2 linked regions of the Homo sapiens genome follow. The protein of the gene in region 2 interacts with the protein of the main gene of each other region in a pairwise test. Each region holds a gene or a part of one and is shown on either strand. Other genes may lie near its edges.

What was found.
Region 1: the proteins of FAM169A (region 2) and MTMR9 interact in binary tests that used the Homo sapiens proteins (3 or more experiments, as listed by UniProt).

The regions. Positions count from the first base shown.
Region 1 is NC_000008.11:11,282,890-11,286,489, reverse strand, and holds the start of MTMR9 (myotubularin-related protein 9), read right to left. Parts: upstream 1,675-3,600; 5' UTR 1,602-1,674; coding exon 1,420-1,601; intron 1-1,419. UniProt on the Homo sapiens protein: Acts as an adapter for myotubularin-related phosphatases. Increases lipid phosphatase MTMR6 catalytic activity, specifically towards phosphatidylinositol 3,5-bisphosphate and MTMR6 binding affinity for phosphorylated phosphatidylinositols.
Region 2 is NC_000005.10:74,838,596-74,842,548, forward strand, and holds part of FAM169A (soluble lamin-associated protein of 75 kDa), read right to left. Parts: intron 3,085-3,953; coding exon of another isoform or gene 3,082-3,084; coding exon 2,950-3,081; intron 1,579-2,949; coding exon 1,479-1,578; intron 456-1,478; coding exon 370-455; intron 1-369.

The DNA of each region.
Region 1 (3,600 bases), on a different chromosome or scaffold from region 2:
TTTCATCATGTTGGTCAGGCTGGTCTCAAACTCCTAACCTCAGGTGATCCGCTCACCTTGGCCTCCCAAAGTGCTGGGATTACAGGCGTGAGCCACCGTGCCGGGCCCACTGAAGACTTTATACAGCAAAAGGTGGCTTGAGGAGACTAATAAGAGCCCCCTGCTCATATCAATCAATCAATCTACCATGGCTTCACCCAAACTGCCTGCAATTCTACCATTAGAAATTTTTATTTTAGGCCAGGCGCAGTGGCTCACGCCTGTAATCCCAGAACTGTGGGAGGCCTAGGCGGGAGGATTGCGAGGTCAGGAGTTCAAGACCAGCCTGGTCAATATGGTGAAACCCCATCTCTACTAAAAAATACAAAAATTAGCCGGGTGTGGTGGCGCGTGCCTGTAATCCCAGCTACTCGGGAGGCTGAGACAGAAGAATCGCTAGAACCTGGGAGGTGGAGGTTACAGTGAGCCGAGATTGGCCACCGCACTCCAGCCTGGGCAATACAGTGAGATTTCGTCTCCAAAAAAAAAAAAAAAAAAAAAAGAAAGAAAGAAAGAGATTATTATTTTAAGGCATATCCTCTGTACGAATCTTCCTAATATCCAAATTATCCTGTGAGGCAATAGAAAATGTTGTCGTCATTCATTTATACTTCTGTGTAAAACGGATAATCAGTTTGCCCTCTCCTGGCTAGCGAGTAGCCACTAAGGAGATGGGAATTTTGAATGCAGATGAAAGTTTAACTTTTTGACTTCGAGGCACTGCCTTGGAAAGATAAAGTCTGGAGTACAAAAAGAAAAAAGAGGTTAACTGGTCCATGCCTTTCCTTGAGAGCCAACCCTGTTCTTTCAGCAAGCAGAATTGAGTAAAGATGAAGAGAAGACATCAGAATCTCCCTTAGTGAGAATTAAATTTTGATGACCCAGAAGGTAAGAAATAATATGATACACTGAACATTTTTCAGAAATTAAAAAAATGGTTCTGTAGCATGTAGACACTCATAACTTTATAATCTGTTTAGTTTTCCTCAGAAATGGTAAAGACTTTACCTAAATCACATCCAATCACTTCATGAACGGTGACTGACAATACCAATTCAAGGAATACGATGGGGCAAGAAGAAGAAGAAATTTATAAAGACAATGCCGAAAATCCACCCAAATGGTGTTACGAACCAGAAATGATCATCAGGATGGTACCAGCCACACGATAACCCTGAGAACTCCATCCAGGTTTAATGGAAACCGGGTCCTCCATCTGGACGGGTTTCAGCTTGGTAAATCCTGATTCTAGGCCACAGAGGGCTCATCTTGCCGGCTAGCTGGGCGGCAGGCTGCGCGGAAAACGCCAGGAAGTATTTCCCGGGGCGCCCACAAGGGACCCCCGGCTCCCTGCGGAGCTGGGGTGGGGCGGGCACTCACCGCTTGTCGATGGCGTCGATGTTTGAATGGAGGAGCCACAGCTCCTCCGTATTGTCCTGCCGGGAGGACAGGATCAAGTGGTGGCCCGTCAGGCACAGGGTGCCCTCGACAGCCGGGTAGAAAGGCCGGTGCAGCACCACATTGTCCACCCGCGGGGTCTTAATCAGCTCCGCAAACTCCATGCTCCCCCGCGGCCGGAGCCAGGGAACCGAGCCCGGTAGGTGCGAGGCGGTTACCCCGCCGCAGGGAAGTAGCGGAAACACCCGGCGCGGGGCTGGCCCGTGGGGCGGGGCGGGCCGGGCGGTGAGGCTGGGCCCGCCCCAGGCTGGGTGGGCGCGGCGAGGCCTACAGCCGCCGGCACCGGCCGCGGGGAGACAGGGGCTGGGGCTGGACGAGGCCCAAGCGCCTCTCCCGCACCGCGCGGTTCACCAGGCCTAGGACTCGGCCACAGAGAACCCCTCTCCACAGGCCCAAGGACCGCCGCTGCCGTTGGGCTCCGGGTCCCGCGTTGGCAAGCGGAGGGCAGTAGGAGAAAGCCGCCTCAGAATCCGCTTCCACGCCCTGGCCGCTAGGGACTCCTAGCGGAAGTGGCTACTCGCTGCTGGAGCCCACAACAACTCCGGGCGGAAGCAGCAGGTCTCGAAACTCGGAAGACGCGGAAGTCGCAGCCGGAAGTTGGTCCTCGCTAGGTCCTCTGGAAATGCCTCCGGAAACACAGCCAGACCAGAAGATGTGTGTTCCTACGAGAAAAAAAGCTTGTCTTTGCCTTCACGCCCTCCCGCTGCCTTTCTTAACCACCTACAAATATTCCTTATCAGAAGAGGTCCGGGAAGAGGGAGGAGGTCCCTGTCTTGCCTTCCTCCGCTTGAGTAGTATCCCCTCCAGAAGCTCTTCAGAGCGTGGGGCTGCTGTAAATTGTGATAATTGTTATGCATTAGCCCTGAAGACATGGCAAGTAGGGGATGGAGGCGGTGACTGTGACCTTACGGAATCCTCCAGGGGTCAGGGAGGGACACAGGGCCACTCCACAGGCTCTCCGAGAGCGCCGCGCCACGAGGTGTAACCTGGAGCAAGAAAGAGGAAAAACAGGAATACCTGTGAGAGGAACCCAAGTACATGCAGTGCACAGAAGAGCAAGTCACTTGACTTGCTGGCGGCCACCCCGTTAATCTGCAGCAGAGCCTGGACTTCAGTCTGCATCTGTGAAACCCAGCGCATGGGTGCGTTGGTCACCACCGCACAGCCTCCCCGTCAGACACCCACGTTTCGCCAAAAATTTATTCAAATAATTACTCCTTTGCTTGTTCCTTTCCCACCGCCCACTTCTGACATTTTTATTCAAAAGTAGGAAATAGAAGAGAAATATGTTTGAGTGCTGGTCTGCTGTGACTTCATTGACCTTTTAAATCCTCACCATCTAGTACCTAAGCACAGCGAGTTGGACAAACTCTCACAGTATTCACAAAGTAAATTGCCACAACCTCATCAGCTCATCCAACACTTGTCCATGCTTTTGATTTTGTCCTTCTTAAAATGTACCCTTCTTAAAATAAACCACTTTATAGACTTGTTTTAAGTGAGATACGTAAATGCCTACCAACTTTCCTTGGTGTCTTTGTTGCATAGTTACTGTAGACTGAATAATAGTTGCCATTTTTTATATTTTTGCAGTTTAATTGCTTTCGTCCAAATAGATGGAATCACTTCCTTTGTAATATATGAAGTGTTTTAATTCATTTTTATAACTAGCATTCCTGACAGCACAGGTATCCACCCCCTGAAGTTCCCATTCTATAGAACAAAATAGCAAATAAGTATTTTTTTTTTGTTCCATAATGGACACCCAGTATACACCCAGTATACACAGGGACACCGCATACAGGGAATCAGCTTTATTTTACAACAGAGCTTCACTTTACCCCTCTGGCAATTAATAGATTCTGGGTATTTATTAAGAACTTTAAATTTAATGCAAAGACTGTTAAATACCACCAGCTCAGCTCTGGCAAAGGACTGTTGGCTTTGTTTATCTCCTATCTTCATCCAGATACACTGCCATCCCTATCCCAGCCCGATCTTGGGTCCTTGAAAAAAATGACCTATCATTCCAACTACCAGGGAGGAACTCCCTTTGAATTAATGAATCTGGATGACTTATAAGACTTCAAAAGTATGGAAATG
Region 2 (3,953 bases):
GAGGCCCTACTAATAAACAAGTTTCCTGGTCAGTCTCTCCTAGAGACAGAAGCTAAACAATCACACAAAGGGAACTAGCTTTTCCTCTATCAAATAAGAAAATCAGAAGCTAACTTGGATAAAGGTAGCCAAAGCTCAACTAACCCATAGGTATTCATTCTTCCTCACCCAATCTCAGATACTTATAGAATCACATAAAAATGGAGGAAGCCCAACCCGAATGCTGGCTTCATCGTAAGAATGAAATTCTAGGGTTTAATATAACCTGATTATTTTTAAATGGGGAAGAGCTCAAAAACTATCACTGTTTACAGGAAACACTGTGAAATGGCCTCAAAAGAAACACTCAAAATTAGAGGATCTTGTTACCTGCTTAAGCCCCTCTCTTGAAGGAACAGATGTTTTCACAATATCATCAATAGCCCACCACTGATCAGCAAGGTAAAGTGCCACAGCTAAAATAGAATAAATAATCATTAACACTTGAGTTTTAAAGTACACTTTTAGACTTAATAAGGCCATATTGTACTATAAAGTATCCATATACTTTATATTTAAGAGTATCTATATAAACCTTACCAAATAGTAATATTGTACTTTGTAGCCTCATTTATACCATTTTTATTTCACTGATATGGTTTGGCTACATCCCCACCCAAATCTCATCTTGAACTGTAATCCCCACAATTCCTACATGTAGAGGGAGGGACCTGGTGAGAGGTGATTCGATCATGGGTCAGGGTGGGGGGGTCCCATTATCACAAGATCTGATGGTTTCATAATGTTTGACTGTTCCTCCTTCACACACGTGCGCACACACTCTCTCTTGCCTGCAACCATGTAAGACGTGCCTGCTTCCCCTTCTGCCATGATTGCAAGTTTCCTGGTGGCCTCCCCAGCCATGCGGAACTGTGAGTCAATTTTTAATTTTTTTTTTTTTTTTTTTGAGATGGAGTTTCACTCTTATTGTCCAGGCTAGAGTGCAATGGTGTGATCTCAGCTGACTACAACCTCCACCTCCTGGGTTCAAGCGATTCTCCTGCCTCAACCTCCAAAGTAGCTGGGATTACAGGCATGTGCCACCACGCCCAGCTAATTTTGTATTTTTAGTAGAGACAGGGTTTCACCATGTTGGTCAGGCTGGTCTCAAACTTCTGACCTCAGGTGATCCACCCACCTCGACCTCCCAAAGTGCTAGGATTACAGGCATGAGCCACCGTGCCTGGCTATGAGAGTCAATTAAATCTCTTTCTATTATAAATTACCCAGTCTCAAGAAGTTCTTTATAGCAGTGTGATAGCAGACATTCATCCATCAAACATGTAGCTATAAGCAATTAAGAATTACATTTTAATAAAATTACAATTTGAAACACTTTAAAAAAAAAACCAAATTCCTTCATGTAGCTACCTTTTAAATAAATTTCTAACAGTTTGGAGAAAAATTCCTTAATTTATAAAAATTAAGCAAAAAGAGACCTGTCAGTGAATCTTCAGGTGCAAAGAGAGCAAGAATTTTCTGGGTCTGATCTCCACCATAAAGAGGTACAAAGCCTACATTTGACAGGCTAATAGGAATCTGAAATGACAAATTAATAAAGATTAGTGAACAGTCTGTTAAGAAAATACATTAAAAAAATCAATCTTTTATCAAAGTAGTAAATATTTCCTACGTTAATTTTAATTTATTTTATAGGAGACATTATTTCTAGTCTCTAAAAAAAGAGTAAATCAGATAGACTTCCCTTTTGGAATAATTTTATTGTCTTAGGGAAAATATGAAAAGTTGTTTCATAAATATTATTATGTATCTAGCCACACATCTGAATAAAAACCAAAGCTATAATATGGCCCATAAAGTCATTTAAAAAACAACTATAATTTATCATCTGTTATTTAGCCTACTTGAGGAAGATATTCCATTATCTAGTTAAAAAAAAAAAAAAAAAGCAGGCCGGGCACAGTGGCTCACACCTGTAATCCCAGCACTCTGGGGAGGCCAAGGCGGGCGGATCACAAGGTCAGGAGATCGAGACCATCCTGGCTAACACAGTGAAACCCCATCTTTACTAAAAATATCAAAAATTAGCCGGGCATGGTGGTGGGCGCCTGTAGTCCTAGCTACTCGGGAGGCTAAGGCAGGAGAATGGCGTGAACCCAGGAGGCAGAGGTTGCAGTGAGCCAAGATCGTGCCAATGCACTCCAACCTGGGCGACAGACCGAGACTCCATCTCAAAAAAAAAACAAAAAAAAAAGCAGTCAAGTAAATTAATTTTTCTGGGAAGATACATGCTACTAATATGCTTTAACATTTTTTTGCCTTCATTTAATCCAACACTTATTCCCTATTTAGAGATAACATTACAATTCAGAGAATTATAAAAATATTGGTGCTGGGGAAGACTTTAAAAAATTCTTTAAGTCACCTCCAGAAGAAAAATCTAAGGCCTAGAGAGGTTAAGGAATTTGTCCACCACAGTTCACAGTGAAACCCTAATGGTTCCAAGTCTAATGATCTATCACAAAATATTATAATTTACTGACTAGAAAATTTGATTTTACTTTTTTAGAAAAAGGAAGAAAAGATTCATGGCACAAAAAATATGTAATTTAGTGTTTTGCTGATTTTTTAATTAAAAAATTTTCTAAACTCACAAATTCCAAATCTAAAGTAAATCTGAAGCAGCTCAAATATAGTAAACAGTCTTAGCAAAACTGGTGGTATTCTCACATATAATTTTAAAGCCATAAAGTCAAATAGCAATAACCTGTGGAGTTTCTCTTTTTAAAAACTGATCAACCAATATTTATCCATTTTACTGAATAGATTTCTGTAAAGATTTCAAAAATTAATGATTAACACTTAAAATGATTTTTTTAAAAAAGGATATTTATTTCATGTATAAACTGAACTGAAAAGATTGATGACAATCACTGCAGAACACCTTACCGTAATATTGAGAAGAGAAAAACACTCTGGATTTTCAGGGTCCCCACACCTTAAATCTGACATGTAATCTTCAGCAGAATTTTCCAATTCCTCATGGCTGCAATTTTCCAGCATATCCACAGGGAATGCCATCCTCTTTAACAAACAACATGGAACAAACAATTCAGAATATGAAACGCCATCTTCCTTTACTCACAGAAAATAAATTTTACTACAATGTTGCCATATTTTGTTATAACAAGATTTTTCTGTTTCACTTTGCCCGCAGAATACAACTTGAACCTGCTGATTTAACCATGCATGTCAAAAAGAAAACTTTCAAACATTATTCATTTGTATTAAAAACAGGCAATGAAATAAATTAACAGATACGTCCTTACATAATAAATATGGTCACATAGGCATAAGACATATTTATATGTACATACACACAAAAATACACATATAAATATACTCTCATAAACCACTCAACATAAAAGTCACTGTAAAAGGACACGAGAACTTGTTGGAATAATGAAAATGTTCTACAATTGGATTGTGATGATAGCTGCACAACCCTATAAATTTCAAAAAAAAAAAAATCTAAAAAAAATCACTGCGGGCACAGTGGCTCACGCCTGTAATTCCAGCACTTTGGGGGGCCAAGGAAGGGTGGATCATGAGGTCAGGAGTTCAAGACCAGCCTGGCCAAGATGGTGAAACCCCATCTCTACTAAAAATACAAAAATTAGCCAGGCATGGTGGCAGATGCCTGTAATCCCAGCTACTGGGGAGGCTGAGGCAGGAGAATTGCTTGAACCCGGGAGGCAGAGGTTGCAGTGAGCCAAGACTGCACCACTGCACTCCAGTCTGGGTGAAAGAGTGAGACTCTATCACAAAAAAAAAAAAAAAAAAAAAAAAAAAAAAAAAAAATCACTGAATTGTACGGTTTGCAATAGATGAATATTATGGTATATTATAAATTATAATTCTCATATATATAGCTTTTTTCTTTTTTTTTTTTT